Linked DNA regions of Homo sapiens: all the other regions are linked to region 1. Evidence: fine-mapped expression QTL. A gene starts in region 1. Each other region holds a variant in brackets. All regions are shown on one strand. Distances are from middle to middle. Region 1 holds the start of CFAP43 (cilia and flagella associated protein 43). Region 2 overlaps CFAP43 (cilia and flagella associated protein 43). Region 3 overlaps CFAP43 (cilia and flagella associated protein 43). Region 4 overlaps CFAP43 (cilia and flagella associated protein 43).

Evidence for each region. PIP is the estimated chance that this variant, and not a neighbour inherited with it, causes the effect.
Region 2: its variant is fine-mapped to the expression of CFAP43 in prefrontal cortex (GTEx, PIP above 0.99). The same link has a PIP of 0.9 or more in adrenal gland.
Region 3: its variant is fine-mapped to the expression of CFAP43 in nasal epithelium (TOPMed, PIP above 0.99).
Region 4: its variant is fine-mapped to the expression of CFAP43 in prefrontal cortex (CommonMind, PIP 0.95).

What each region holds. Positions count from the first base shown.
Region 1 is chr10:104,228,029-104,236,213 of GRCh38, reverse strand. CFAP43 (cilia and flagella associated protein 43) reads left to right here and starts at 3,850. Exons shown (of 38, transcript NM_025145.7): 1 at 3,850-4,032; 2 at 5,371-5,624. The coding sequence starts at 3,968. RefSeq lists an enhancer at 3,729-4,023.
Region 2 is chr10:104,169,254-104,177,438 of GRCh38, reverse strand. It overlaps CFAP43 (cilia and flagella associated protein 43), which reads left to right. Exons shown (of 38, transcript NM_025145.7): 20 at 4,904-5,029. Among named protein-coding and RNA genes, the nearest start is that of MIR609, 46 kb to the left of the region's middle. The variant A/G (reference allele first, on the strand shown) is at 4,059.
Region 3 is chr10:104,128,169-104,136,353 of GRCh38, reverse strand. It overlaps CFAP43 (cilia and flagella associated protein 43), which reads left to right. Exons shown (of 38, transcript NM_025145.7): 35 at 2,570-2,734; 36 at 4,158-4,238; 37 at 4,870-5,023; 38 at 6,049-6,466. The coding sequence ends at 6,215. Among named protein-coding and RNA genes, the nearest start is that of SFR1, 10 kb to the right of the region's middle. The variant ACAC/C (reference allele first, on the strand shown) is at 3,567.
Region 4 is chr10:104,180,740-104,188,924 of GRCh38, reverse strand. It overlaps CFAP43 (cilia and flagella associated protein 43), which reads left to right. Exons shown (of 38, transcript NM_025145.7): 13 at 515-655; 14 at 1,433-1,605; 15 at 2,802-2,951; 16 at 3,779-3,909; 17 at 6,412-6,559. Among named protein-coding and RNA genes, the nearest start is that of MIR609, 34 kb to the left of the region's middle. The variant AG/G (reference allele first, on the strand shown) is at 4,462.

The DNA.
Region 1 (8,185 bases):
ACATCAGTATGGTAAGGTCCATTCATAACTGTTGAGTTTTGACAAAAGGTGATATCTGGAAGATTAATACGTGTTTAAGAAAACATTTAGTAAGCTTGTCCTGTATTCCTACACAAAGAGTATAACAGCAATATATTCCACAAGGGTAGAGCAAAATAAGTAAAGTTGTTCCAAGTAAGCTAAATTAGAAGGCTTTTCATGAACTGGGCAGCTGTTGGAACTAAGCTGATATGGGGTTATTAGCTGAATGTGATGTGCCCGGAATTAGAATACTGATCCAGATTTTTACATTACCCATCCCTTTTGTTTATTCTGAGCAGCAGTCAGAGATCATTGGTTGGTTCACAGGAATAAGCAGGGTTAGCCTAAATTGCAGAAACGAACTTAAAAACAACTAATGAGACTAGAATTTAATAACAAGTATACCACAGTACTTGAAACATAATATTTCTCTCTCCAGTTTCTCATTTTTACTAAAGACAAATCATGGTAAGGCTGATTTGCTTTGTTATACTTGGCCTGATTATTTGTATAAAGTGCAACAAAAATAATTATTTTTCACATAGGCTCTTTTTAAATTAGCTTTGATGGAACTCTGCTCTATAGAAGTAATCTTAGACAAGACTTTGTAAAGCCAAGCTCGGCCATGTGTTTGTATCCTCAAATATCTATGAGTTGAGTAAATTCCTGTTCTCTTGAGGTCCCAAGATAACTTAGGACTCCTGGACCTGCCAGAAAGTGACATTCTTTACTTACCACAGGTCATTCTTTACTTACCTTTACAGGGACAGTTGCAGACAAGATCTGAGGCCAATTCTCCAAGTGGCTTTTATTGGCTTTACAAGTCAAGTTTGATTCCTTAAAGGAAAGCACACCATTCCAGTTAAAGCCGTGGTGAAATAACCAATTTATCCAATTGTGTTCTGCTACAAAAGAAAACAGATCCTTATTGCATGTATGCAAATAACTATATTGCCATAAATTAAGAATACTCACAAATAGTTTCCAAATTTTGGAAAAATCAGGTAGAGAGAAACAAATATACTCCAAATTTTGTTCACAGAAGTATACTCAATTGCTAAAAGCTGTAAATAGCTCAAAAGAAAAGTTTCCTTGACTCTGATATTCATGAACATTCCAGCTCTACATGAGGGTTCTGAAAGTTGTTTCCTCTATTCTAATGTTACAATTTCCAAAGTTATTGGAAACCTGCATTTGGGAACACCTGCTGGAGTTCTACAGTTGATTATAAACCACCTTCTAAAGAGGATTAGAACAAGAAAACAATTGTGGATGATAAAAAGTTTTAGGATAGCCACTATTAAAGCCACAATTGATAAGGAAACTTGGTTACCTATGTGGCACACAAAATTTTACATAACAATTATAATTATTAATAATCTACACTAAGTCATATTAGAATTATAAGAGTTTCTCATAACTTTGTAACATATACCAATAACACATTTATGCAAATATAGTCCAAAAAAAGCAAAAAACCATTTCATATTTGGCAATGCTTCCTATATGATTTTTATAGCAAATAAGCCAAATTTTACCTTTACATTAATGTGCTATTAATGTTAAACCCAATTTTTAATAAAACCTTATAGACATATTTACCCAATTTTAATGTTAACCATAAGGTAAGAGTCTTATAAACCTCGTATAACCCTTTACAATTGTGTGTGTGTGTGTGTGTGTGTGAAAGAGCAGATCAACTCTAAGAAAAACCTGTTGTGCTTTTATTCCAATGTTTAATTTATCGAAAAACTGAATAATACCCCTGTAACTTTAGCCAGTATGTTCACATACAGAATCTCTTACAATTAATTTTTATAAACCTTCCACAACTTATTTAAACCTTTAGTTTTTTTTTTTACTTAAAGCAATCCTTTAACACTTAAATGTAGGCAGAGAAAAATCCACATTCCCATTACTTCTTATAATCTTTCACCAAAAACACATTTTACTTTCTTTACACACCTTGCATGTAAAACTGTTTCTTTAGTAGTTTTAATTACATGTTATAATGTTAACTTTTTGCAACTTTTATTTTTGGTGAAAACCTTGGTAAGTAAGAGATTTTAATTGTGTACTAGGTGTGGAGCCTAGCCTAGGACACAACAGGCAGAAGTGCAGATAACAGCTGACTCTCTAGCATAGCTAGAGGGCATAGCTAACTCCACATGTCCACAGGGCTCACCCTTACTTAAGCAGGCAAGTTGTACAGTAAGAGTCATAGGGCATTGTATGAAGCATTTAGGAGGCCTAACAATCCGTGAATTGTACAACATTTCTTGCATAAAATCACTTTCATAAATCCTTTCACAACTTACACAGACCATCTGAGACCATGTGGATATCTAGCCCAACTCCCTGGATCCCACCAGTCTCTAAGTTCCAAGAAGGAAGAAACTTTATTTGTTTTTCTATTTTTTCCAAGTGACTAGCACATGCATGAATGCATGCGGGATGCTCTGTAAATATTTGTGAAAGAAATGGAGAGAAGAAAGCAAGACAGGAAGGAAAGACCTAAAGAAAGGAAGGGAAGGGTAGAGAAGGGAAGACGACTGAAGGGAAAGGAAGAAGGGTAAGGGAGGGAGTCTAAGGGAAGGTATGGGAGAGAAGAAGGAATGACAAGCTGCCGACCATTCAATCAGGTTACTTCCAGAGCTGTCTGCTTCCCTGAGGAAGCAAGAGGGTACATTTCAAAGTGTTATATGGTACTTAAGGGCTTGGAGCTCTAAATTAGCTAGACCTGCGTTTAAGTCCCACTCAGGGCTGGGCAAGGTGGCTCACGCCTGTAATCGCAGCACTCTGGGAGGCCAAGGCGGGCGAATCACTTGAGGTCAAGAATTTGAAACCAGCCTGGTCATCATGGTGAAAACCCGTCTCTACTAAAAATACAAAAAATTAGCTGGGCATGGTAGCACGTGCCTGTAATCTCAGCTACTTGGGAGGCTGAGGCAGGAGAATCGCTTGAACCCAGGAGATGGAGGTTGCAGTGAGCCAAGATCAAGCCACTGCCCTCCAGCCTGGGCAACGGAGTGAGACCCTATCTCAAAAATAAATAAATAAATAATATAAATAAATAAAGTCCCACTCAACTTTGTAGCCATGGACAAATTATGTGCTTCTCTTTTCCTCACGTTACTTATCTGTAAAATGGGGCTGATGGGAGATGTGAAGACGTTGCAACAATGTTTGGCACAGTCAGCACTCTAAATGAAAGTCTGTTTAGAAATTTATTGATTTTTAAAAATAATTATTTATTTAGAGACAGGTCTCGCTCTGTCGCCCAGGCTGGAGTGCTGTGGCGTCATCCCAGCTCACCGCAGCCTTGAACTCCTGGGCTCAAGCGATCCTCCCACTTCAGTCTCCCAAGTAGCTGGGACTACAGGCGTGCACCACCATGCCCGGCTGCTTTTTAAATTTTTTTGTAGAGATGCGGCACGGGCGCGGCAGGTTTCGCTATGTCTTCCAGGCTGGTCTTCAACTCCTAGCCTCAAGCGATCCTCCCGCTCTGACCTTCGAAAGCGCGGAGATTGTAGGCATGAGTCTTACTTGCAATTATTGGCCCGGACCTGGGGAAATTTGTTAAAATGCAGATTCTGATTGAGTAGATCTGGTGTGGGAGCCAAGTTTCTGCATTTATAACAAGCTTCCCAGGTAGCACCAATGTTGCTGGTAAACAGACCACACTTTGAACAGCAAGGGGCCCGCCCCTCGCTTGGCTTGCCGCTCACCCATTGGCCGAGAGCGGCAGACCTTCCACCAATCTGCTCGGCTCAGAAGGGAGCGGGCCAAAGCGCAGAGCCAATGGGCGCGGGGCTTACGGTCTCCGGGATACGGGTGTACACAGCAGCGGCGTCGCGGCCCGCAGCCCCGCGGCGGCGGAAAGGTAACCGACCCGCCCTGGGGTGCTGCGTGCGCTGCCTGCTCCCGCCTGAGGAAAACACTGCCCATGGCGCAAGGCCGGGAGCGCGACGAAGGCCCCCACTCCGCCGGCGGCGCGTCCTTGTCCGTGAGGTGCGGTGTTCACGGCCCCGCGACCGATCTGGGTCTCGCGGAACCTCCTGCCCCAAGTCCCCTCCTCCCTCCTCTCCCTCCGGTTCCTTAGGGCGGCTTTCCCCGCAGCTTCGACCTCTTCCCCTCTGCCCCCAGTGCCTTCCCTCAGCCTCCCTCCCCGTGTGACCTCCCCTGTCCGCTCCCCATCCCCTTGTTCCTTGACCCCGTCCCCAGTTGTCTTTCCCACTCCTTATTCTGCGACCCTGACCCTCCGTCTCTTACCCAGCAACGTCCCCTGCACCCTTCATCTCTTCCTTCTAGCTCAGGATTCCCGCTAGTGATCCGGGTCTTCTGATCACATCCCCCTCCCCCTCCACCTGGCGACAGCCCGGATCCCGTCCTTGCTACCTTTGGTGATTTTCCCCAAAGTTAGGTCCCTGAATCCTTTCCTTCTAACTCCTATCCACTAGCTTTGGATTTATTTGCATTTATAGTAGCCTTTGAAAAGCATCAAGCACTGCGCAGATATAGGTGGCATTTTTTCCCCTACATTCTAGAGTGTTCCTCCCAGCCCCCACCTCCACTCTATACAGCATCCCCTGCTAGTCCTGGACACTCTAATGTCTCGAGGTTTCTCACCAAACCAGTGTCCTTCACTTGCCTTTTCCACCATCTTCAAGCATACCTTTAATATTTAAATAAAAATAGAATCTCCTTCATCTCCTCTCCTTTCTAGCATACACCTAGCACGCACTCCTTACTTGAGAGTATGTTCTTTTTGTGTGCTAGCCTTTCATTCACGTCGACTTCATTCCTTTTATTTTCTACGTTTATCTGTATTTTTAAATCTAAAATATGGCCACATACTCTTCATCTGTGTAAATAAGCAATTTTCCTACTCTGCTAACAACCACAAAGCAGGCTGTCCTATGCAAAGTTGTTTTTTAAAGTTTATTTAAAAAAATCAAACTAATTATAAAAGAATGGCCCAGGATGCCACTGTGTTGAGATCAAGCTCTTTTCTCTGTTATTTTCACTTTTTGTCTTCCAAGTATAGAAGACCCCAGAAGTCCTTCTGAGACTTTCTCAGGTTTGGTCAGAGAGTTTCCTTTGCTGAAAAAGTTATCTGAAGAAGGCCTGGGAGACCTACGGAACTTTAGGTCTACATTTAAATTTCTATAATTCATTGACTCAAATGGATCTCACAGCCAGCATGTGTGTTCTTTTATCTTAGAAATTGGGGGCAGAAAGGACATGAAAATAGAAATGTTTCAAAGATTTTGATGACCCTTTGCTTTGTTAAAAAAAAAAAAGTATTTGAAATGTATTATATTGATGTTGACATATCTTTTCCCAAAGATGGGTGCAAGGATTCCCTAAGCAGAATGTTCATTTTGTCAACGACAACACCATTTGCTACCCTTGTGGGAATTATGTAATATTTATTAATATTGAAACCAAGAAAAAGACTGTACTGCAGTGTAGTAATGGAATTGTGGGCGTCATGGCAACTAACATCCCCTGTGAAGTTGTGGCTTTTTCTGACCGGAAGCTAAAACCTCTCATCTACGTATACAGCTTTCCAGGATTGACCAGAAGGACCAAATTGAAAGGTATTCTAGAGAACCCTTCCTCTGCCCATAATTGAAGGATTTTGTTTAAAGAGTTGACTAAATCTATTATAAGTGAAGATTTATTTTTTGAAAGGTTTTTTTTGTTTGTTTTTTGTGTTTGTTTTGAGATGGAGTTTTGCCCTGTTGCCTAGGCTGGAGTGCAGTGGTGCGATCTTGGCTCACTGCAATCTCTGCCTCCCAGGTTCAAGTGATTCTCCTGCCTCAGCCTCCTGAGTAGCTGGGATTACAGGTGCGCACCACCACGCCCAGCTAATTTTTGTATTTTTAGTAGAGATGGGGTTTCACCATGTTGGTCAGGCTGTTCTCCAACTCCTGACCTAGTGATCCGCCTGCCTCACCCTCCCAAAGTGCTGAGATTACAGGCATGAGCCACCACGCCTGGCCCCATTTTTTTTTTTAATATACATTTTTAAAGAAGGAATCAAGCTGATCACTGAGGATTTAAATTATGTTAGCTAGAGCCTTGCTGTTCAAAGTGTGGTCTGTTTACCAGCAACATTGGTGCTACCTGGGAAGCTTGTTATAAATGCAGAAACTTGGCTCCCACATCAGAGCTACTCAATCAGAATCTGCATTTTAACAAAATTCCCAGGTGATTCATATGCACATTAAACTTTGAGAAGCACTGGGCTAGAAGACTATTGCCTTTTTCAGAGCAATGACTTTTTTTTCTTTCCTAATATTTGTTGAAAATCCAGGTGAATTGATGTTTGTATAGCTTCTAAAGTCAAGTCTCTGAGCCTCAATTTCCTCATTCATGAAATAGGGATAAAGATGGTGTCTAATGTGAAGGCTGCGGTGATGATGATAGATGAAAATATATAATATGCTGTATGTGTATGTATGCCAAGTGCTCAATGTTGCCTACCATTTGAATTATTAGTGTTTATTTTATTTATTTTATTTTAACAGAGTCTGGCTCTATCACCCAGGCTGGAGTGCAGTGGCATGATCTTGGCTCACTGCAGCCTCCACCTCCTGGGTTCAAGTGATTCTCCTGCCTTGGCCTCCCAGGTAGCTGGGATTACAGGTGTGCGCCACCATGCTCGGCTTTTTTTTTTTTTTTTTTATGTTTTTGGCAGAGGATGGGGTTTTACCATGTTGGCCAGGCTGGTCTCGAACTCCTGGCCTCAAGTGATCCACCCACCTCCGCCTCCCAAAGTGCTGGGATTACAGGCGTGAGCCACTGTGCCCGGCCTAATGACTCTTTCTTAGATACAGCTGACCCACACTGAGCTGCTGCACGTCTGCTGGAGCCACCAGCTAATGATTCCTTCATTTAACACCCCATGGGCAGAAAGCTCATGCTTGAGGCTGGACTTAGCTCTGTAGTCTTAAGGGTCAAATAAGTGTTTGGATGAAGTCAGGGAACTTCACTATAATTTATAATACTTTGTTTGTGGTGAAATTTGCATTCTCAACAGTTTAAGACAATTTTCAAAACATAACCCATTCACATGTTGGGGACTATCTAGGTGGACTATACCCTTTATCTTTAAAATTTCCCCAGGTTGGTTATTTGGCTGTAGTTCTGTTTGAACCAATTGAAAGTTAGTTCAAACCAATACCCAGGAGTCTTACTGAATAATGATGCCCTAAAGGAATTCCCAGTAATACTAATCAGTAATATTAATCAGAGAGACCTGTTATCACTATTATTTAATATCAACCTGGAAGTTCTAGCCAATGCAACAAAATATAAAACTGAAAAAAATATAGCTATGGGAAAGGGGATGATGGATAATGCGATAGTCTGCTAGGACTAACAAAAGAATGCTCAGTAAGATGCTGGTTTTGAAATAAGTACCCATACAATTAGAACATATACATACTTAGAAATAATTCAAAAAAAAGTGTGAGTGACCTAGGGGAAGAAAACTACAAAAATCATTGATTTAAAATATTTAAATATATAGAAATATATTCCTGGATGGAAAGCCTGGTTATTATAAATATATTTCTGAGATTTGTCATAGAAAGTAATTTGTAGGTTTATCCTATGTTTTAGACAGCAAGGAGTACTCAAATGATTCCAAAATTCATCTGGGAAAATAAAACATAGAGAATGAGAATAATTTGAAAGAGAATGATGGCAAGGCAGAGGGTCATTTTAATATTATGGTGCCATAGTAATTAGAAGTATGGCACTGGTGCAGGGATCACCAAATCAGTGGGAGAGTTGAAGACTTGGGACAGAATCTAAAGTATATAAAAGCTGAGTAAATGAAGAAAGAGGCTACCACCAAAAAGAAGGAGGAAGAGAAGGAGGAGGAGGAAGAAAGAAGAAAAAATATAGATTATTCAACAGTGGTTAAGAAAACTGCATATTTTAACAAAAGTATCAAGTTAGATACTCATGGTCTATATCAGATGAAAAAAAGCATTAAATATAAATAACAAATCCACTTGAAAATAGTAGAAAATATGGGCCGGGCACAGTGGCTCACGCCTGTAATCCCAGCACTTTGGGAGGCCAAGGCAGGTGGATCACGAGGTCAGGAGATCAAGACCATCCTGGCCAACATGGGGAAACCCCATCT
Region 2 (8,185 bases), 59 kb after region 1:
CAGTTTCCTCCCTGTAGGGTTATGAGTTGGCAATGACCGCCATCCTTCTCCTACATTTATGGGTCTCTCCAGGTTCATTAACCACTCCCAGCCTTTGCCCTTCAGACCTACGAGCAGAGATGGCTTCCCGAGCCCGCAGTTGGTAGCCTAATGCTTTATCATGTGTTGCTGGCTCTCCTTACTCTGCCAAATCTTTTTTTTTTAAGTTTCTCTCTTCAGTTTTCCCATTTGAATGTGTTACTTTTTCCTACCAGGACCCTAGGTGTTTTCTTCTTCCATGTGCTAGACTTCGATGGGCATTTTAATAGGAAACCTTTGTCTCTTGGTTTTAGAAAAAGTTCTTAAATCATTTCCTTGGCCTTTGTTTTTATTTTCCTGATTACTAATAAAGCTGAGCACCTTTTCATAACTCTAAACACTATTTGTATTTCTTCTCTTGTGAATTTCCTGTTTATATTCTTTGCCTATTTCCTTATTGGATAATTGGTCATTTTCTTGTTGATTATAGGAGTTCTTTATTTTTATTTTTTATTTATATGTATTTATGATAATTAGAGTTAGCTAGCCTATGGTAACAAACTCAGAAAAACATAGTGGCACAGTGATGAGAAGGTTATTTCATTCCCATGTAACCATCCTGGGTGGGTATTTAGCTCAGCAGCTGCTCTGTTCCATGCAGTCATTCAGAGACCCAGACTGTTGGAGACCCTGCTATCTTCAACTCAGGGCTTCGAAGATTGCCTTGCTTGATCTCATTTGAGTCAGTTGGAAAGGAGAAGAGCGTGGAAGTGTGAATGCGACATATCTAAAGGTAGCCCTTATTATTAGGTGGAACTTCATGCAATTGCTGTTTTATGTGGCTCAACCTACAAATATTTTCTAGAAAAGTATATGGCTCATCCTACTCTAAATACTTTCTTTTAACTTTTATAATGTGCCAAATTTTAAATAATTTTATTATAAAGCAGAATTTTAAAACTATGGCATGATCCAAGTTATTGATCATTTTCTTTATAACTTTTGGGTTTTACCTCTGATTTTAAATGACCTTTCAAAGTCACACATATTTTCTTCTAATGCTCTTTGATTTCATCTATAATTTATTTTTGTGAATGGTATGACATATAGTTCTAATTTTATTTTTTCAAATAAATAGCCCATTTCCCCAGTCTGTTTTATTTAATATACTATCCTTTCTCTGCTGATTTGCAATGTCTTCTCTATCAATCCCTGGATATAGGATTGTTGCTGGACTCTGTTCTAAGATTGAATATTGATTTTTCTTGAGCCAATACCAAGCTATTTTAATTACTATCACTTTATAATAGTTCTTGTACCTTGAGAATAATTCTCCTTTTGCCCTTCTTTAAAAAAAATTGGCCTTTTTATGTGTACTTAATTTTCCATTGGAATTTTAAATTCAGCTTGTCAATCTCCATGAAAAACTCTGATTTGATTTTGATTGAGAATATATTGCTTATAGTTTGATTTGGAGAAGAATTTATCTGCCAGCTCTGAACTTTAGTATATATATAAGTATGTATGATAAAACTTTACTGAAGAATATTTTTTAAATTGAATTAAGATATATACAGACAGTCCCCAACTCACAGTGGTTCAACTTATAATTTTTCAACCTTATGATGGTGCAAAAGCAACGCACATTCAGTAGAAACTTGGGCGTGGTGGCACATGTCTGCAGGCTTATTTTGATCTTTTCCCAGAGTAGCAATATGCGGTACCATACTCTCTCACAATGTTGGGCAGCAGCAGTAAGCCACAGCTCCTAGTCAGCCATGCAATCACGAAGGTAAACAATGAATATTCTGAAGTGTACTGTGTTGCCAGCATTTTTTGGATATCGTGTTTTATGTTTTCACAGCCCATCATGTCTACAAATGCCCCTTTTGACATGATATTTTCATCTTACCATGGGTTTGTTGGGCCATAACCCCATCATAAGTTGAGGAGCATCTGTATATTTATATATTTACATCTTTCATTTATTTATTTAGAGACAGGATCTTGCTTAGTAACCCAGGCTAGAGTGCAGTGGCATAAGCGTAGCTCACTGCAGGCTTGAACTCCTGGGCTCAAGCATTCCTCTCACCTCATCCTTCCAAGTAGCTAGGCCTGCAGACATGCACCACCACGCCCAAGTAATTTTTGTATTTTTTTGAAGAGACAGGGTCTCCCTATGATGCCCAGGCTGGTCTTGAATTCCTAGCCTTCTGCCTTGGCCTCCCAAAGTGCTGGGATTACAGGCATGAGCCACTGCACCAGGCCTGTATATTTATTTCTTTTAAAATATATAACTTTTAAAGTTATATTTTCTTTTTGGTTTTTTTTTGTTTGTTTGTTTGTTTGTTTGTTTGTTTTAGATGGAGTCTCGCTCTCGCTCTGTCGCCCAGGCTGGAGTGCATTGGCATGATCTCGGCTCACTGCAAGCTCTGCCTCCCAGGTTCACGCCATTCTCCTGCCTCAGCCTCCCGAGTAGCTGGGACTACAGGTGCCCGCCACCTCGCCCAGCTGATTTTTTGTATTTTTAGTAGAGATGGTGTTTCACGGTGTTAGCCAGGATGGTCTCAATCTCCTGACCTCATGATGCGCCCACCTCGGCCTCCCAAAGTGCTGGGATTACAGGCGTGGGCCACCACGCCCGGCCAGTTATATTTTCATTAAATATATAATACTTACATATGTGTATATTATATATTTATTTATCTTTATTCAATTTTAAAAAGGTAATCTCCAGTGAAAGTTTATAGTTTCTCTGAAAGTGACTTTAAATTTCTTATTAGGTTTATTTTAGGTATCTTATAGTTTATACCGTTTTTGTGAATGGAATATTTTTCTATTGCATTGGTGATATGGTTTGGCTGTGTCCCCACCCAAATCTCATCTTGAATTGTAGCTCCCATAATTCCCATGTGTTGTGGAAGGGACCTGGTGGGAGATAATTGAATCATGGGGGCGGGTCTTTCTTATGCTATTCTTGCAGTAGTGAATAAGTCTCAGGAAATCAGATAGTTTTAAAAAGGGGAGTTTCCCTGCACAAGCTCTCTTCTCTTGTCTGCTGCCATGTGAGACATGCCTTTCCTTTCACTTTCTGCCATGATTGTGAGGCTTCACCAACCATGTGGAACTGTAAGCCCATTAAATCTCTTTCTTTTGTAAATTGCCCAGTCTCAGGTATGTCTTTTTCAGCTGCATGAAAACAGACTAATACAATTGGTATATGTTATATATTGGTATATATTATTGGTATATGTGAATGTTACTGATTTTTTTCTGACCACCTTGTTGAATTCTTTTTAGTTCTACTATTTTGTCACTTGATTGTCTTAGATTATCTAGGTAGACTATCATATCTTTTGAAAATAACATATTTCTCTCATCAGTCTTTATACTTCATTTATTTTTCTAGTCTTATGATTCTTTTTATGAAATACAATATTTTGCATCCCTAGTTACTGTAAAATTATACCCTTCTCACTCAATTAACTTTTCTTTTGGGCAACAAGTCTTCTATTTGTTGAATTTATTGTCTCTCTCCAGTGGTCTTGTTGTTCCCCAAATATTTAGTGATTTATTGTTATTATTTCATGGTTGTCTTTATAATTGAAACTCCCTGTTATAGTTCCATGACACCAGGTCAGTCTGCTTTGGAAGAAGTGTAGGAGATCTGACTTTAGCAGGTATTCTGTCTGCTCTCAGTAAAAAGTGAAGGGGTGGGTGGTGTTGGGAAGTGTCTTGGCATCCCATTGTGTGGTGGGGGTGGTTCTCTATTCTTTCTAGCCACTAACAGATTCCTTGGGCCTTGCCCTGTTTCTCCCATCCAAATATTCATTCCAGTTTCTTCTACCTGGAGACAAACACTCCAGTTACTACTGCTGGACCCTAGGGAACTTCACCAGGTAGGGTTACAGGCAGGTTCTACTGTCTGTTTCTGATGCAGCACCCCCAGCTAATCAACCTGCCAGCACTCTTAGGTAAACCCTTGTTCCTGTATCTGGTGTAGCTTCCACTCGTTGTTGAGTGCTGTGCTGAGGGCATTC[A/G]GGGCTGTGATGCATCCTGCTGATCCATCTGATTTCCGTCTTTCAGTTGTTATAGTTTTCATGCTCCTGAAGGATTCTATTCCTTTTTTCCTCTTCATTGTAGTAATGGGTTTATCTATGCTATATACTTCTTTTCTCTTAACTTTATATTTTGGGGCAAAAAAGAAAAATTGTTAAACTCATTCTCAGTCTACCATTTTGAAACTGAAGTCCCATTTTTTTCTATCATTTGTCTGCCTTGTTTTTATTTGTAAGTGCTTTTTATATATTAAAGACATTAATATTTTGTCATATGTGTTGTAGTGTGTATCCTTTGCTCCTGAATTTTTTTAAGTTATGAACTTTTAAAGATAATTTTTATTGTATAGAAGTTCAAATTTATACAAAATTGGAGAGAATAATATAATACATCCAATGGCCAATATCATTTCACCAATGCTTCCATCCATTACCCCTCCCCTGATTATTTTGAAGTAAATCCCAAACATCATATCATCTTTAATTATTTCAGTATGTATCTCTAAATGATAAAGACTCTTAAAACACATAACCACAATGCTGTTAGTGTACCTCAAACTAGCAACAGTGCTTTAATATCATTGAATGAAATGATGAGCTTATATATTTTTGTAGTTTTCCTTATTAAATGAAAGAGTTTTTAAGGATGAAACCTTAAAACTTCAATAACCACAATAAGCCCATAATCTAATTATTTACTTAGTAGTACATTTTGATAAATAGAACATCTATTTTTTATTGATTGCTGCCTAAAAGAAACTAAGAAAATTATCTTATTACAGTTTAATTCTTTACTTGTCAGCACTCTTTTTTATTTCAACATTCAGATTCTGAATATGATGGAAGAAAATGACAAACTAGAAAATATTGCAAAATTAGACCAACAGGAATTTGGTCTGGATCTTGAGGAACTAGAAAGGCTTCATGATGAAAGTCAGGAAGAAGTGGCAAAGGTATGAAAAAGTATAATTTAAGCACCATAAAGTTATGATGAAAGAAGTAAAAAGATAATAGGAATGGGAACTTTTTCATAATAATGTGAATATGACAAAACCTTTTTCAGTATAATGTGAATAAAGCAAACATAGTGCATATAAGTATAATGAATCAGAGGATCATCGAATTTGGGGGTTAGGAGCAGGGAGAACATCTAGGCCAGCCAGACATCTGACATTTGCTTCCCCTCCATGACATTCGTGCCAGCCATACGTTTGAACATTGTTGGAAGTCTTCTCAGCCACCTCATGCCAACTTTGGACGCTTCTGGTTTAGTAAGCCCTTTCTTAATTAGAGTTGAAATCTTTCTTCCTGTACTCACTGATCCTTCTACTCTTTGAGCACTTCCTACTCTATGGCCCCTCTGAGAGTGGTAGAGGATTAGAAATTTCCATGTTCCCTGTGGATCTTCTCCTGTCTGGGCTAATTATCCCAGCTCCTATGACCATCATATATTATAGTTTCAATAGCCTCGTCATCATCATGCCGTTTTCCTCTGGATTAATTATATTTGCATATGGTACCCACAGAAGAATTCAAATTATTTTCTGTCCAGTGTAGAGAAAAGCATAAACTGAAACCTCCATTCATACTATACTTCTATTAATTCAGCCTTTGTATTATTTTCTGGCAGTCACATCAAATTGTTTGCTCATATGGATTTTATTTTAAATAAAAGCCCTAAGTGTGTTTTACACAGGATATTCTGAAGCTACCTCTTTCTCAACCTGCTAGTACAGGTTAATTTTTTGAATGTGCAAATATAAAAACACAGGAGAATGCAAGATAGCTGGATTCAAGGACAGTTAAGGTGGATTATAATAGATTAAACAACTACACCAAGAGGAGGTTGATTATTTGACTGATGCCTCTAGGAGGGAGGTTTCCACCATGTACCCCAGGACTTGGTCCTGATAAACATGTTTATTAATGACTGGGGTGAAGATATAGAAATGAGGAGATTTGTCAAATTAGTGAATGACATGAGACTGAGAAGGTGAGGAAATGTAGTGGATAACAATTAGGACAAGAGTATCTCAACAGACTGACTTAGTACAATAAAATTTACCTGAGATAATCATTCCTTCATTCATTCTGCAACATTTATTAATGTGCTGGGCATATTAATCTAGGTGCTGGGAATAGAATAAAGAAGACAGACACATTTCTGCTGTCATGGGGCTAATGTATTGAAGAAGACAGGCCGTAAACAAATCTCTACATAGTATATGATGGAAACAAACTGGATGCTGTGATAGATGTGGGAGATCTACTTCTGTGGTCAAAGAAAACCACTTCAAGGGCTGACATTTCAGTTGAGAACTAAAGGGAGAGAGAGATCTGGCTGTGCAAAGATCTGAGGGAAGAGAATGTCAAGCACAGGGAGCAGCAAGAGCAAAGGCCCACAGGCAGAAATGGCTTGGAGTATTCCAGGAACAGCACACCAGAAAGGCTGAAGCATCGTGGATGGGAGAGAGCCTAATGGAATGAGGTTGGGGAGGTAGGCAGAGGCTAGCCCTGACGAGCTTGTATATTGCGGTAAAGAATTTGGCTTTTTTATTAACTGTGCAACAGGAAGCTATGAAAAAAAATCCCATTTTCTTATCACAAGAGGTAGGCACCAATCTAGGAGCTTTTTAAATGTTATTTATTTTGATCATCACAATCAAAAGAGGCAGGTGATAGTTTGCCGCACTTGAAAAAACTGAGGCTTAGATAGAGGCTTAGAGAATTAGAGTCACTTGGCTAAGATCAGAGCCAGGAAGATCCTGACTCTTCCTCCTTGGCTCTGGTTTGGCTCAGGCTCGGAATGCCCCCTGCTATTCTGCACCAAGTTCTCCCAGCCCACTCATCTTGACCACTCAGCAATGTGTGTGGGTTCAGTGCCTGCCCGCTTCCTCACTGTATCTTTGCTTCTCTCTCCAAGCTGTATACAACTACTTGACACAGTGAACCTGCTCCCCTGGCCCACTGAACTATTTACCATTGCCAAACTCATCCTACCTACCCCACCGCCACCCTGTGCCTCTGCCCCAGATGCCCCTCCTTGCCACTTACCAAATTCATGCTCATCCCTCAAGAGTTCTCCTTGATCCTCTGAGGCAGGATTTGGTGCAGAGAAAGGCCTTCCATATGCTAGTTTCCCTCATATTGTTTATTTTTTTTTCTTGAGCTCTGTGCCTTTGAAGAGATAGTAACACCAGATTAGGTACAACAGTGGCCCAGGAGAGAACAGTGTTAGCAGATGGCACCATAAACTCAGCTGTTTAGGAGCTTTCAGCATGTTTAGGATCAGAATACTAGTCCTTGGGAGGAGTTAGTGGCACCTGCCAGTCAAGGATGTGAATGAGAGACTAGGCTACTACCCTACCCCGGCCAGGATCCCAATGATAGGAAGAAGACCAAAGCCCGATAATGACAATCTGGACACATTATTAGGGACTGAGTTTGGAGGAGTTGATCAAACAGCCTCAGCAGTGGAGAGAGGAGGGCCGAGTGGGCTAGGAATCAGGCAGGCTCTGACAACTGATATGCCAAGCCAGCTGTCTATTTAGAAAGAAATAATTTAAAACTATATTAGCTATTAACTCACTGGATCAGAATCAAAAAGAAATGAATTGCAAATTAAAGTCATTTAATCAGACAATAAAATAAATAGAAATTCACAAGAAGTACTAAAAAAGACATTTTAAATCTGCGAGATATTAGTCTTATCTAGTTTGCTAATAATTCTGCCAACAAAATGAAGTGCACAAAGGTCCTGAAGAGGATCCTAAGGACTAAAGATTGTTAGATCTCACTTTCACACCAGGCCTTTCAGAAAACTCTATTAAAATAAGAATACTTAATTATTTAAATAATAAGCAATAGGATTATGTAAGCAAGTAAAACTAATTGAAGTAACATGTTTTTAAGTGGAAAAAAACACAGATTGTATGATCCCCAAGAGTAGTAGAGGGTTCTTTTTATTGTGGATGTAAATAATAGAAGAATTAAGTACAGTAAAGACTCCCAGACAGAGGTCACAAACTGGCACTTCAAATGTGTGTTGGCGAGATTTCAACCAACATTTAGATATCTGGCAGTTTCACTTAAAAATATGAATTCCAGAC
Region 3 (8,185 bases), 100 kb after region 1:
ATAAGTAAATATCTAAGAATCAAATCTGAAGTCATGAAGATTTATCCCTGTTTTCTTTCTTCTTTTCTTTTCTTCTTTTTTTTTTTTTTTTTTTTGAAATGGAGAAATGGATTCTCGCTCTGTCTCCCAGGCTGGAGCACAGTGGTATGATCTTGGCTCACTGCAACCTCCATGTCCCGGATTCAAGCGATTCTCCTGCCTCAGCCTCCTGAGTAGCTGGGATTTACAGGCGCCCACCACCATGCCCAGCTAATTTTTGTATTTTTAGTAGAGACAGGGTTTCACCTTGTTGGCCAGGCTGGTCTCAAACTCCTGACCTCAGGTGATCTGCCTGCCTCAGCCTCCCAAAGTGCTGGGATTACAGGCGTGAGCCACTGTGCCTGGCCTCAGTCCCTGTTTTCTTCTTTGAAGTAGGGAAATGTTAGCCATCCAACTTTTTGTTTTCAATATTGTTTTGGCTATTCATGATCCTTTGCAGCTTCATATGAATTTGAGGATCAGGTTTTTCCATTTGAAAAAAAAAAGCCATTGAAATTTTGGCAGTGATTGCATTAAATCTATAGATTCCTTTGAGGAGTACTGTCTTAAGTCTTTTGATCCAAGAACATGGGATGACTTTCCATTTATTTAATCTTTATATTCTTTCAGTAATATTTTGTAGGTTTCTTTGTACACACACTTTTTAGATAAACTTTATTTCTAGGTTTTTTCTTTCTGATATTATTGTAAATGGAATTGATTTATTAATTCTTTTCCAGATTTTTCAGTGGTGATGTATAAAAATATAACTGATTTTTGCATATTAATCTTATACTCTGCAACTTTGCCAAATTTATGTATTATCTCTAGTAGGGTTTTTGTGGATTCTATATGACTTTCTCTATATATATAGACTCATTAATCTGTGAATAGAAATTGTTTTACATCTTTTCAGTTTGGGTGCCTTTTATTTCTTCTTCTTGCCTAATTGCCATGACTAGAATTTTTATTACAGTGTTGAATCAAAGTGACAAAAAGTGGGACATCCTTGTCTCGTTCCTGATCTTAGTTGGAAAGCTTTCAGTCTTTTATCATTGAGTATGAAGTTATGATGGGTTTTCTGTAAATTCCCATTATCATGTTGAGGAAGTTCCCTTTTATTCCAAGTCTGTTGCATATATTTTTTTTAATCATTGAAGTGTGCTGGATTTTGTCAATTTTTTTTTTCTACATCAATTGACATGATCATGTGAGTTTTTAAATTTGTTCTGTTAATGAGGTATATTATATTGTTTGATTGTGCGGACTACTCTTGCAATCTTAGGATAAATGACACTTGGTCATAGTTATAATCCTTTCAATGTGCTGCTGGAATCAGTTTGCTAGTATTTTATTGAACGTTTTTGTCTTTGTGTATGTATTCATAAGGGATATTGGTCTGTAATTTTCTTGTGATGTCTTTCTCTGGCTTTGGTATCAAGGTACTGCTGGCCTCATATAATATATTAGAAAGTGTTCCCTCCTCTTCTATTTTTTGGAAACATTTGAGTAGTATTGGTGTAATTTTTCTTTAAATGTTTGATAGAATTCATCAGTGAAGCCTTCTTGTCCTGGGCTTTTCTTTTTTGGGAGGTTTTTGATAACTGATTCAATTATTTACTTGTTTTAGGTCTATTAAAATTTTCTATTACTTTTTGAATTGGTTTTTATAGTTTGTGTGTTTCTAGGAATTTTCTATTTCATCTAAGTTACCTAATTTGTTGGTGTAGAATTTTCATAGTATTCTCTTATAATCCTTTTAATTTCTGTAATATTGGTAGTAATATTCTTGATTTCATTTCTTATTTTAGCAATTTGAGCCTTTTTTTTCTTAGTCAGTCTAGCTAAAGGTTTGTCAATTTTGCTGATTTTTTAAAAGAACCAACTTTTGGTTTCATCATTGACTATTGTTTTTCTGTTTTCTTTCTTTCTTTTTTTGAGACAGGGTCTTGCTCTGTCACCCAGGCTGGAGTGCAGTGGCATGAACACGGCTCACTGCAGCCTTGACTTCCTGGGCTCAAGTGATCCTCCTGCCTCAGCCTCCTGAGTAGCTGGGACCACAGGCGTGCACCACTATTCCAGGCTAATTTTTTGATTTTCCGTATAGTTGAGGTCTTGCTCTGTTGCCTAGGCTGGTCTCAAACTCCTGAGCTTAAGCATTCCTCCTGCCTCAACCTCCCAAGGTGGTGGGATTACAGGCATGAGACACCACACCCAGCATCAGGTGGGAGGACAATGAATAGGGATACAAATGCATACAGGTTGGTAGATTGGGTGATGGCAAAAAAAAGTTCCTGCCTAATTGTTGACATATAAAGTAAATTGGCTCTGCTATTTAAATGTATCTTATAATCCCTTCTGTTTAGTGACTATCATGCTTTATAGTGATCAGATTTTGCCCAAGAAGCCATTTTTAATGTCTGTTTCTTAAAAAGAAGACAGAATTATCTCTGTGACCCAAGTATTTTCTAAAAATAGCATTCAGCCTCAAATATTCTATGTTCTATATGCAGAATCATATTATATGGATATCTAATGTACTTTTTTAAAGACTCAAGGACAAAAGAAAGTTGCTAGCATGATGGAAAGTAAAGATGTACACAAAAGAATACTTCAGATTGAGTGGGAACATAAGAAAATGGAGATGGAAAGGGAAGATCTAAATCAGAAGGCTTGGGATATTCAGATGCTATTTTTTTCAAGAGATCGTCAAAAGGTAAATTCTCCCTACCCCCCTACATAGTTTTAATTTTATTCATTAATGTATTCATTCATTTAACCAGTATTTAATAAGAAGCCTCTGTGATATCAAGCATATTCTAAGCCAGGAGTGTTTCAAAATATATCTGTGAGTTATTTTTCTTCCAACAGTTTACATTTGCAGCCTCCAGTTCTTCATGACCCATTTAGTAGAATCATTCTACTCAGAGCTAAGGATTTCCTGTCAAACCCGGTGGTCCTTCAATTCTCTGTAGCATTTAACCATCTTAATTTCTCATTCCTTTGGCTTTCATCACCCCAAATTAATTTTGCTTCCAACATGTCATACCACTCTACCTCTTTTACTGGATTCTCTTTTGCCTCTAACACTTCAATATAGCCGTTCTTCAAGATTTTGCCCTTAGCTATGTTTGTGTTTCTTTCCATACCTCTCCCTGGGTGATGTCCTCTGTTTTTCTAACTTCAACGATCACTCCTACAAACTAATCCAAGTTCTGTGGATTCCAAGCCATGCCCCATTTCTATAGTTTTCACCTCCCAGCAGCTCTTCTTAGTTTGCCTTTTTTGTACATCCCAAATCTACTTTTCAAGGTCTAGTTTAAATACCACCTTCTCCTTCATAAAACCTTTCTTGATTTTCCAAGCCTGGAGAAATTCCATCTCATTACAAACCACCTTTGAATTAGCATGACACTCTACATGGCTTCTGGCAACCAATCATATCTATGTGATCATTTTCCCATGAAGACTAGGACATGTTATCTATCTTTGTATCTCCCTCAGTGTCTTTAACTAGGACTTTGTTAATGTGGGACTCAAGTGGAACA[ACAC/C]TTAAATGTTTGGTGAGTTGAATAAATGAATTAATGAATGAGAAAATAAAGTAGGCATTTGTAATAATTGGTGCTTTGATGTAATAATTAGTGTACATGAATGTATTGATGGCTAAATACAGGGAAATATTATGGCACAAAAGCCAAATCAATCTTTTTTTGTTTTTTTTGAGATGGGGTTTTGCTCTTTTTGCCCAGGTGGAGTGCAATGGTGTGATATCCGCTCACTACAACCTCCACCTCCTGGGTTCAAGCAATTCTCCTGCCTCACCCTCCCGGAGCAGCTGGGATTACAGGCATGTGCCACCACGCCCAACTAATTTTTTGTATTTTTTAGTAGAGACAAGGTTTTACCATGTTAGTCAGGCTGGTCTTGAACTCCTGACCTCAGGTGATCCACCTGCCTCAGCCTCCCAAAGTGCTGGGATTACAAGCGTATGCCACCACGCCTGGCCAAGCCAAATCAATCTTAACTTGCATAGATATTTGTTATGAAAAACAGTAACTTTCAAAGCTAAAACAACCTTTATAAAGTCATCTATTGAAAGAGAGAAAAATATCCTTACATGTTTTTTTTTAATCTCAAAGTACCTAAATGAACCAAACTATGAGGCTCTGATTAGTATTCAGATTGGAATAATGGAACAAACCATTGCTGTTTTAGATAAGGTAAGTCTCAAAGACGTTGGTTATTATATCCTAACAGTTGTAAATCATTTGAGCAAAGTAATAGTGTTTCAAATCATGAATTTACCTAGACCCTAATAAAATCTTGGTTATTTACTAGTATTCATGAGGTAATTAAAAGTCCCTAAGTAGTATCTTTGCAACCGCAACTAATGAAATAAAATTAAGCACTTCCTTTAATATTAGAATTAACCCCTGGGGACATATCTGAGTGTAAGTGGATTTTCTATTTTACATTAGGTTAGGATTTATGTAATAGGAGTGTTGGTAGTCTTTCCTTGGCATTGGAAAGGTTTTATTTAATCATCACTGAATAAAAATGGTCAGTTTTTATTATGTAGCATATATTAGAAACAAAGCAATCTCAAGCTTTTAAAATATTCTCTCAGTTTAAGAATATACAAAATGTTTTTTCTAAAATTTGTTATTAACATACCATTCTACCTTTCAACAAATAACTCGAGTGCCTACTATGCCAGGCACTACAGATATGGCGGTAAGATGTTATCTTAATGATGATAATGTATTTAAAATATAAGAATAATGTCTTTATAGGATAAATTACATTTTTCAAAATTAATTTTGTGGGGTGTCATGGGAACAAAAATTTCAGATGCACAAAAAGAATGTGGAAAACTGCAAGAAACTACTCAAAAAACTTGGAAAGTTCAGCAATCAAAAAGATATAGCAAATTATGCCCTAAGCTGCAATCTACGAGAAGAGTTGGTAGCTGTCTCAGAGAGAAAAGACATCTGTAATGCAATGGGTAAGCATGCTTTTTTTTCTTTAACCAACTGTAGGTTTCTTTAAAAGTAATCAGTAATCCTAAAATGTATACAACAGTTAAAAAGCTATCAGCATTTCTTTAAAAATACATTGTTTAAAATAATTTCAACTTTTATTTTAGATTCAGGGAGTACATGTACAAGTTTGTTACTTAGGTATATTGTGTGATGCTGAGGTTTGGGGTACGGAATGATTCCGTCACACAGGTACTGAGCATAGTACCCCATAATTTTTCAGCCCTTCCTCCCTCCCTGCCTCCTCCCTCTAGTAGTCCCCAGTGTTTCTTTTCTTTTTTTTTTTTTTTTTTTTTTTGAGACAGGGTGTCCCTCTGTTGCCCAAGCTGCAGTGCAGTGGTATGATCTTGGCTCAATGCAACCTCCACCTCCTGGGCTCAATTGATCCTCCCACCTCAGCCCCCTCAAGTGCCTGGGACCACAGGCAGGAACCACCATGCCCGGCTAATTTTTGTATGTTTTGTAGAGAGTAGGTTTTGCCATGTTGGCCAGGCTGGCCTCGAACTCCTGAGCTCAAGAGATCCGCCCACCTCAGCTAACCAAAGTGCTGGGATTACAGGTGTGAGCCACCACACCTGGCCTCCAAGTGTTCCCTGTTACCATCTTTATGTCCATGAGTATCCACTGTTTAGCTCCCATTTATAAGTGAGAACATGTGGTATTTGGTTTTCTGTTCCTGTGTTAATTTGCTTAGGATAATGGCTTCCAGCTACATCCATGTTGCTGCAAAGGACATTATTTCATTCTTTTTTTTATGGCTGTGTAGTGTCCCATGGTGTATATGTACCACATTTTCTTTATCCAGTCCACTGTTGATGGGGCACCTAGGGTGACTCCATGTCTTTGCTTTTGTGATAGTGCTGCTGTAAACATACAAGTGCATATGCCTTTTTGCTACCAGCATTTCTTCCACATGTATGATTCTGAGTGCTGCTTCTGTATTTGAAAGTATTGATAAATAATCGAATTCCTTTATTCATTTTTGGGATAGGGTCTAAACTGACTTGTGAAAAGATTGTCAAAGAACGGTATGAAAACATGATGCAACAGCAGAAGTTAACAAATATTTCAAAACAACAAGCTGAACAGATTTCAATACTACAGACTGAAGTTGAAAGATTAAGAATGAAAACATTTCCTGCTCTTGTTCAAATGTAAAAACGCTGGCAGGAAAACACAAGGCCAAATCAATCATTTAAAAAATCATTTCATTTGGGTAAAATGATTTCCTTTTCTTTCTTACTGGGAAATTGAAGTAGCATGTCCTCTGAGTTGCATGTTTTAGATAAAAAATTGTTTAATTTTAGCCTTAATTGTATACAAATTTTTGTCCTGCATGAATAAATGTGTAAAATACCATGAATTGCTGTTTTTATTCAAGAATAAACAAGACTTGAAGTCAGAAAGTATTCAAGATCTATTTTACTCATTTAATCTGAGTTGGATCAAAGATATTTTCATAGTTATGGTATAGAAAGTCTTAAAAAGAAATTCTTTGCCAAACTAGCATTTCTAATTTTATGAAACTGTCAGAAAAGTTATGAGATTATGGGTAATTTTTATCTTTATGCTCTTCTGTTTCTCATTTTCTTCAGTAAGCATTTCTTTCATAATCAGAAAAAAATTACGAGAGTATTTAGATTATTCTCTGCTGCACCAATGAGAACAAGACAAATTGTTAGAGCTTTTTCCAAGCCTTGTATCATTTGTAAATTACAACATATTTTGGCCAGACACGGTGGCTCACGCCTGTAATCCCAGCACTTTGGGAGGCCGAGGCATGTGGATCACGAGGTCAGGAGATCTTGACTAACATGGTGAAACCCCATCTCTACTAAAAATAAAAAATAAAAATAAAAATAAATTAGCCGGGCGTGGTGGGTGGTGGCAGGCGCCTGTAGTCCCAGCTACTGGGGAGGCTGAGGCAGCAGAATGGTGTGAACCCAGGAGGTGGAGGTTGCAGTGAGCCGAGAATGTGCCACTGCACTCCAGCCTGGGCAACAGAGCGAGACTCCATCTCAGAAGAAAATTACAACATACTTTAGAGACATAATCTACATTTCTTTTATGTTGTAATAGAAAATTCAATTTTGTGCTTTACCCAATAGGGTTTAACCAACAGAAAAATACTTTCTTATTTCCATGAAGTAGTTTATCACTTTTAGATGGTGATAATTATATAATGAGATGAATAATTGGCCATAAAACTGCTTTGCCCTTCCATAACCTGTGGACTGCTGTCCACAGGGATCATGGACCACAATCTCCAAGTGATGTCACTGTCTCACTGTTCTGCAATTTATGAACTCAACGTTAAGTTTAATCCTCAGTACCATATCCAATATACACTGATGTAGATAAAGCAAGAGAGCTACTATAAAATCTTCTGTTTAGCAAAATAAATCTTTAGAAGATGTAATTGATCACCCACATAGTGATCTGTGCTGGATGGGGATGGTAAGGGAAATGATAGGACCAACACTTTGATGATTCCCCTCCTTTGTACTAGACGGACTCATGAAGTAGTCAGTTTGGCGTATTCAGTAGGGAAGTGCCCATGGGTACCATTTCCTACATCTGGGGTCCTTCAAAATTATCCCTGAGATGAGAGTTGTGGGGACAGACCCCAGGGTAGGGGTGCAAATACTTTATACTTAAGATGGTATTGCCAGAAGTTCTCTGTCCTGTTGGTTTGAGTCAACCATAGATGTACTAGACTTGATTTTTTTTACAATCTTTTCTGGTGACACAAACTCCATTTTCACCTAAGTTAGCTGTCTGGAGACTCCATTTGCTAGTAGTGCCACAAATTTCACTAGATAATGCTCTGTGGATTCCCAGGTCTTAACAAAGCAGCCGGCATCATTTCTATTTCTTAGTCATCAACCTTTGTTGACTCTGGCAATGTTCCTTGCTTGACTGCCTTACTTTGAGGCATGGATGGAGTGGGGCTTAGTGGGCACCTCTTGCCATCAAGCCCTATTCCAGAAGCCCTTTCAACGGGAGATACCTTCTGGTTTTGGGGCTTTGGAAGGACATGTGGGTCATGCACAGTAACTCCTCTCTTAATACTGTTCATGGTATTGACTCCTCTCAGCTTCTGCTGAACAGCAAATATATTCATATTT
Region 4 (8,185 bases), 47 kb after region 1:
ACAAATCCAAGGTGGGCTCCAGGCCTGGCACACCTTGTAGAGGTTAGATCAGCTGGCTTTCTAGTGGAGCAAGCTCATAAAGTCACGTTTCCACCACACCCACAGTCCTTGACCACAGATGCAAAGAAGGCCGATGCCTAAGTTTACCCAATCTTAGGATTAGGTAACCTGGCTGGAGTGGACTTGTGGGGACCAGCTCATGCAGATGCTGGTTTGGAGGGATAGGGGGTGGAGATGGTGCACTCTGGGGCCACCCTGGCTGGGAAGGAAACCCAGACAGACTGGGCTGGTTTAAATCTGCCAGTCTAGACATCTAATCAGGAGAATCCCTCATCCATTCATCAAAAATGTCCCTGTAACTTATGTTTAAAGGTCACTTTAAATGTCCAGCAAATAATTTGATTCTAAAGATATAGTGAAGGCAAGTCCATGGATGATATCTTAATTGGAAAGGTAAAAGATCATTTAAACTTATCAATGACCACTTGTGGTGTTGATCTCTGTTTGCTTTCAGAGGTGGCCAAAGACATTTTACAGATATCCACAGTGTCTCTTTTAGAAACAGACATAGTGGAAGTGATGGTGCTTTCCTCGCTTCCAGAAGCAGGGAGAAGCAGGTTGGAGATGTTCACACTGCCTACATTACTGCCACAAGGTAAGGAAAACATAAGCAGCCAGTTCTGCTCCTGAGCCCAGATACATTGTTGTTATTGTTTTTTGGGTTTGTTTTGTTTTTATCTTGGCATGTGAAGAGGTAAAATGGCCACCTTTTGTCTATCTTTACAAAGTAAAACCAACATGCTAAACAGTTTGAAGTGTGGACTTTTCCTCTGGGCTTCCTGACTCATGAGTCTGCTTTATTACCATAGGAAAAGAGATAGGATCAACGGACACATCAAATTGATTTGTTATTTTTGTGATGTCTCTTGTTTTGTAGCTTTGAATAGACAAGGTTAAATTCAGATAGATTACAGTGTAGTTCCCTTCACTGACAAAATTATAAAGACAGTTTTCTGGATAAAAAGGTATGAGAAAATAGATACTCTTTCCTTGTTTTAATGACAAATATATCAGGTTAGCAGTTTTGCAAATATATAATTATAGAGCAGAAGAGAGCCGACAACCTCCAAGTACTTTTATGTTTTTATAAGAATCTCTATACTACCATGGGTTTCTTTTAATATGTCTCTAAGTTAATTGATTAAAAATTAATCAAGGCATTACAGAAATATTTTACCCACTATCAGTCATTTAATACTCAAGTATTTCTAGGGAGACAAGTGTTTTTAAATCATTTTTATCACCTACTAGCTTCCGCAATATTAGTTGAGCATTTAAATTTTATTTTGCTTTTCATAATTGTTCATAATTTTAAAAAAACAAAATTAATTTATGGTACAAGTGATTTCTCTTCTTTTTCCAAATCTAATAGTTTCCACAACCTTTGCTGATGAAAGAGGAAGGCTGAAAGATGAAATCATTCATAAGTACCTGTATGAGTTGGAGCACGCTCTGTCCTCTGCAGTCTTGGGCTTTCAAAGTAACCAAATATATGGCTTCTGTAGTCAAGTGCCATACATCTGTAGCTACCTTCTTCCTGAAGAAGTATGTCAACACTTAAGTGTGCTCTCATTTATCTTAGCAATCAAGATTGATACATTATACTGATTAGATGTGATCCTCTTGACCACTTTAACAGAATAGTTCAGTTAACAAATGCCTTCATTTTATTAATATAATTCCCTTGAGCTAGATATATAGTGTTATTTGTTAATCCATCATACAATATATTTGAGCAACCTGATACTTGTGCCACATACATCATCTTTGTCAGATAAACATGCAGATGACACAATATTAGTTTAGTGCCTTAAAAAACAACCTAGCATTAGGAAATCTATTCTACATATGCCAAGGGCTACAAGGTAGATGATTTGATTTGCAGTGGAACTTTGCATCTAAGCCATAACCAAAATTACAAAAAATAATTAAACTGTGTTTCTGACATTTTTTCATTACACTCTCTTCAGACTTCTCATGCATTGTGTCACCTCCTGCTGCACATAATGGCCCAGTACCCTCCTGCTTGCTGCCCCTTGACCTGTCACTTTCCCTTGATGTCTGTCTACCCACTTTGATAAGGTCTGCCTTCCTTCCTCTAAATTCTTCAGTCAAAGCTCTTCTTTGACAGAGTAGCCAGGACTAGACACAGAGAAGGAATAAATGATTAGTGGCAAGAGAGATTCAAGAAAAGTTTCATGAAGGAAGCAATATTTGATCTGGACTTTGAAAAGTAAGTCAGATTTAGACATGGAGAGATATTGCATACAATTTTGGTGGGCAGCGCTCATATAGGGAGGTAGGGCAGGACTGGTGGGGATGGAGTAGAGTAGGGCATTCCAGACAAAAGGAAGGACACGTGCAGAGGCTTGGAGGTAGGAATGCATGAAACATACGGGGAATATTGACTACATTATTTTGACTTAAGCATGAAGATATGTGAAAATGATTAGTAAAAGCAAAGATTATCAGTGTAGGCTAGGATTTTTAATGGCAAGTAAATAAAGAAGACTTTACTTAGTTGGCAGAAACAAACTTTTATTTGCAAAAGTGGGAAACATGATGCAAACGCAGGTGTCCACTTTATCCTATATCCATTTATTTACAATGACAATGTTTGCACTTTATGCCATATCATTTTATTTACAATGACAATATACAACAGGCATGTATATCTGCAAACCCAAAGGTGCTGTTTACCTGATCTTTTCTATAATGTGGTTATTTTCTTTGATTGGCAGGAACATACCGGTATCTACATTCTTAAACCATACAAAAAAGTACAAAGCAGACAGTATGGACCTGGACTGCTCTATCTGTCTTCACATGGATTGTGGCTCATAACAATAGCTAAATGTGGAATTCTGTGTATCCGAGACGTTTATACTTTGGTAAGCTGCTTTCTTAAAAAAAAATATTGTGGGTGTATATATTGATCTCATATAGGAAACATTTTATATGTATATAAAAATTTGCTTATATATGCATAAAAACTCTGAAAAGATATTGAAGGTACTAATTACCTTGCTTGCCATTGGAAGTATTAGGTCATGGGAACAGGAAGGAGATTTCACAGAATACTCTTTTATAATTTTTGAATTTTGAACCATTTGAATGTATTGCCTATTTAAAAACCTAAATGAGAAAAGGCATCATGGTTGAGAACCAGTATGACTCAGAAATCTCAGTTTTTAAATTGTTGCCCTATATACCAAATTGATGATGCATTTTGTTTAAGTTCTAATCAAACTGGCTTAGTTAGCATCCTTCAGAGCATGTTATCTTCCATTCTTCACAGTGCCCGTCACCCTCTCTCATTATACTCAGCTACTTCACACATAAATAGAACCTCCCTGACTCTTGAAGCCATCGGAACTCACCATCTCTGCTTGCTGAAGGCCCCTTCCCTAGCTTTATAGACTTCTGCAATCCATTCACTTCTCTGTGTCTGATTTCCTATTATAAATTGGTGATAATAATCCCTGTCCTTCCATACTACACAAAGGTAGTGGAAGAACAAATTAGTATTGGTGAATGTGGTTTGAACTGGGGATTTTAAATACTATGTATTGCCAATTGCCTACTTCCATACCAATTAAAATGCTGTTAGCAAATAGAAAATGATTTATCCACAAAAAAGGGGCATATAACCCCATTAGAAAAGCCGTGTGGTAGAATTGCATTTGTAATTTTTCTGGTTTATTTCTTAACTATTGAGGAAACATTTGCTTGGTGTCGGAGTCATTCTCACCAGGGTCATGGGATTCAGTCAATGAGAATTTCAATGGATGGACAAAACATTCTGGTGAATGGGAGAGATGATGGCACCCTTGTCTACCTAAAGTGGAAGTACGTACAGTATTCAGTAAGTAACCCCATGTAGTATAGTGTGTTAAAATAGAGATTTTATTATTATTTAAGTACAGCAAGGCCAACGTGCTGGGAGACCACTGCCAGTGCAAAGAAAGTTTGTTATACTCACAGATCCCAAGAGAAGCGTACACTGCATTCTCGGGTACCACATGGGGCAGACCTGGGGTGGGTCAGGAGGCTGAGAGAGGGAGGAAAACGTGGATGAGATCCTCTAGTATGGTTTTCACAGGGAGGATTGGGCAGGTTTAGGATTGGCTAGTTTGAATATTATCAGTGGGTTCTGAGGCATAGGAGCTGGCTGTAGTTGTCTCATACTTGGCCCTGGGGTGATTAGGGTGGGGAAATGGTGGCCCCGATTGTGAAAGCCCACTAGAGGAGGTGGTTGGGGGTATGGTCTCTGGATTGATCGGTTTGCTTTTGAAAAGCGTGTTCCAGAGCAAATTGTTTACTATCTTCAGAGACTGGCTAGCCTCCAGAAGTCAGCAAGGCCCCAGATATCAGAGCATCAAAATACAAAAAAAAAAAAAA[AG/G]ACATAGTTAATATTTATCTGAGAGTGATCAGTCCTATCTCTCATAACATAAGAAATGTGGACAATTCTGACCCTCAGATAACTTTAAAAACTCCTGTTTATCCCTGACATATACATGTATGTATATATACACACACTTTCCTAATTAGATTTTGCTTAGATTATATCAAAGACAGTTTCAGTCCCCAAACAAGGAGGGGATCCGTTTTAGGGAGGTACTATTATCATCCTTGCTTCCAAGTTAAACTATAAACGAAATTCCTCCCATGGTTAGGAGGAATGAACAAGAACATCCAGCCTGTGAGACTAGAAACAAGATGGAGTCAGCCATGCTAGACTTCTTTCACTGCCGTAATCTTTGCAAAGGTGGTTTCAATCATGCAATTCATTTTAGAAAAAATAATATTTCGTGATACCTCCTGTGATCAAAGCAGTAATAAAATACGGCCCTTCTCTGCAACATTGTGAAAATGTTAAATGTTGTGGAGATTTTGTATCATAACAATTTTGCTAGCCACTTACCTCAAAAACTCATTTGAGGATTGCATCATCATGCCCATTTTATACATGGGATTCTGAATAGAATATTAGCTTTTATCTCACTATGTAAGTCCTAACATATTGTTTATAACCAGCGAACAAATACTATCTCAGGCAACAACAAACAAGTGCTGGAGCCTTATTTATGCAGCTCAAAAAGAAGGACATTTTGATCCATTGGTAATCACCCAAACTTCTGACTCAAAACAAAGCTGGGTTTAAAACGATGGTCTAGGCCAGGCGCAGTGGCTCACGCCTGTAATCCCAGCACTTTGGGAGGCTGAGGCGGGTGGATCATGAGGTCAGGAGATCGAGACCATCCTGGCTAACAAGGTGAAACCCCGTCTCTACTAAAAATACAAAAAATTAGCCGGGCGCGGTGGCGGGCGCCTGTAGTCCCAGCTACTCGGGAGGCTGAGGCAGGAGAATGGCGTGAACCCGGGAAGCGGAGCTTGCAGTGAGCCGAGATTGCACCACTGCAGTCCGCAGTCCGGCCTGGGCGACAGAGCGAGACTCCGTCTCAAAAAAAAAAAAAAAAACGATGGTCTAGGACTTTTGACTTTGTGACCTTGGCAAATGACAACCCCTCTAAATCATCTGTTACAATGTTACTTAAGGTAGGGGGTCTGTAGCATCTGTGAGCTTGTTAGAAATGCATATTCTTGGATCCCATCTGGACTTTCTGAGTCAGAATGTCTGCAAGTGGGGCCCAGGAATCTGTTTTTAAACCCTCCCAGTGATGCTGATGCGTCCAAAGTTTGCAATGCCCTGGTGAATTAAGTGGAAGTAATAATACCACTCTCAATGCAGGGTGGGGTGATGAGGGGGCCACATGTGATTATGTGTGTGAAGTAGCACACTGCCTGGTGCATTCCGAGAGCTCAGCCAGTGCACTGGCTCTTCTGTGCAATGACCAGGGCAGGTACAGAGGGCATGTTGAGTAAGGGTATGAGGACAGTGTGAGGAGAGGGTACCCTAGAAAGGTCAAGAAGCTTGTCATGGCCTGGAACCCATGAAAGGGTCTCCTGTAAGAAGCAGAGTCCTTTAGCCATGCATGGTGGTGTACCCCTGTAGTCCCAGCTACTCTAGAGGCTGAGGTGAAAGGATCATTTGAGCCCAGGAGTTCGAGGCTGCAGTAAGCTGTGATTACATCACTGTACTCCAGCCTAGGTGACAGAGCAAGACCCTTTCTCTTTAAAAAATAAAAATTAAAAAAAAAAGAAGAAATTCTGCAAAAGAAGTAGGCACTGAAGAAGTTTCCACAAGGCACTGTGAAGAATTGTCCACATATTTCCTTGGTTAGTTACCTATAAACTGAAATGGTTAGTTACCTGAAAATAATACAGCTAAATGTGATTTTTTAAATTATGATTTTTATAGCCTCTGTGTTTTCTTTTTTATTAATATAGGCGATTTGGAGGACACCTAGCCAGTGAAATTCTGGACTATTACCAGAAACTATTAATTTCCCTGAGCAGCGCCATGGACAAGGAGAATCATTATTTAAGCACAACACCAAAAGTTTCCGTAGATTTGGGATCCGATTCTGAACACACAGTTGAGTTCCTATATGACTAGCTTGCTTGCTTACATTTCTTTCTTTGTAAATCAGAAGTTTTCGGTTTGTGGTTTTCTTTAAGCAGATATTTAGTAATATTTCTCTTTATCCAGGTATCCCATGATTTTCAAAAAGGGAATAAGCTACGTCTGAGAGAAAATATTCAGCCTTTCTCAAAGCAATTGCAAATAGTACATTTCAGATCTCATTTAAACCATAGTACAAGATCCAGGCTTGCCTGGAAAAAAAAATCTTCTACCCACACTTGTGCTTGGTCAAAATGGTCTCTCTATACTTTCATATTACAGATATTATTTAGGAAGTGTCTAGCTAAAGAACAGTATTCACTCATTCAATTAACAAATATTTATAGAGTGCCTACAGAGTGCTAGGCTGTGGGGGATATAGCCATGAACAAGAAAGAAAAATTTCTGCTTCCATGGAGTTTACATCCTAATTGGGGGTTGGAGATGGGCAGGGAGAAACAGATAAACAAGCAAATGCAGAAGAAACAATGAGATAGTAACAAGTTCTATTCAGTGAATAAAAATAGGTTGATGTGATAGTATTGGGCTGGATAGCCTCTCCAAGCAGACATTTAAGCTGAGATCTGAATTAAAAGAGAACACCACCATGCAAAGACAATGGGAGGGTAGCAAGAGTATTCAGGGCAAAGGGGGAAAGAGCTTGGCGTGTGGTATGTTAGGACCTAAAAAAGACCTGTGCAGTTGAAGCGAGCTAGGGAGAAAGTGGTGGGAGGTGAGGTCTTCAAAGTGGGAGGAGACCAGGTAACGAAGGGCTTTGTAAACTAGGTAAAGAGTTTGAATTTTATTTTACATGTAATGAGAACTGAGTCAGGTGTTCTGAACACAGGATTAACAAGGTATAGTTGACATTATTGAAATGACTATTTGATGCTATGAGGAGAATGTTTCCTGTAGGTGATAAGAAGGATCAGAAGCAGGGACATTGCTCAGGAGGCTAAGGCAGAGGTTCAGGTAGCAATGATGGAGGTGGAGGAGTCTTGTGCCAAGGAGAGAAGTGGTGGATTCCAGGTGGGTTTCAGAGGTAGGGTTGATAGAACTCACTGATGAATTGGACATAGAGAGAGAGGAAAAGAAAGGGCCCAAGAACTCCTAGATTGTTTTACTTGAACATTTATGTAGAAGATGGTGTCATTCATGGAGATGGGGCAGACTCTGGGGGAAGGGGGCAGCTATGAAGAGAAAGAAGGGAATTCAAAATCAGTTTTACCCACATTAAGCTCGAGAAGCCTGTTAGACATCCACGTGAAGATGCCAGTTCAGCCATTGGATAGATGAACCTTGGGTTCTGGGGAGAGGTCAGGACTGGATATGTTGATTTGAGTCAAGGGCATGCGGATGGGATTTAAAGCCATAACACTAGGTAAGGACATCATGGAAGCATGAATGGCAAGAAGCAGAAGAGGACCAGGACAGAGCAACTTCTGGAGAGGCAGGAGAAGAGTTCAGGGATGCAGAGGACCCTGAGGAGGGGTAGCCAGTGAGGTTACAGGAGAACCAGGAGAACATGGCATCCCAAACTCTTTCAAGACATTTTGCTGCAAAGGGGAGCATAGAAACAGGGTGGTGGGCCGGCGGGGA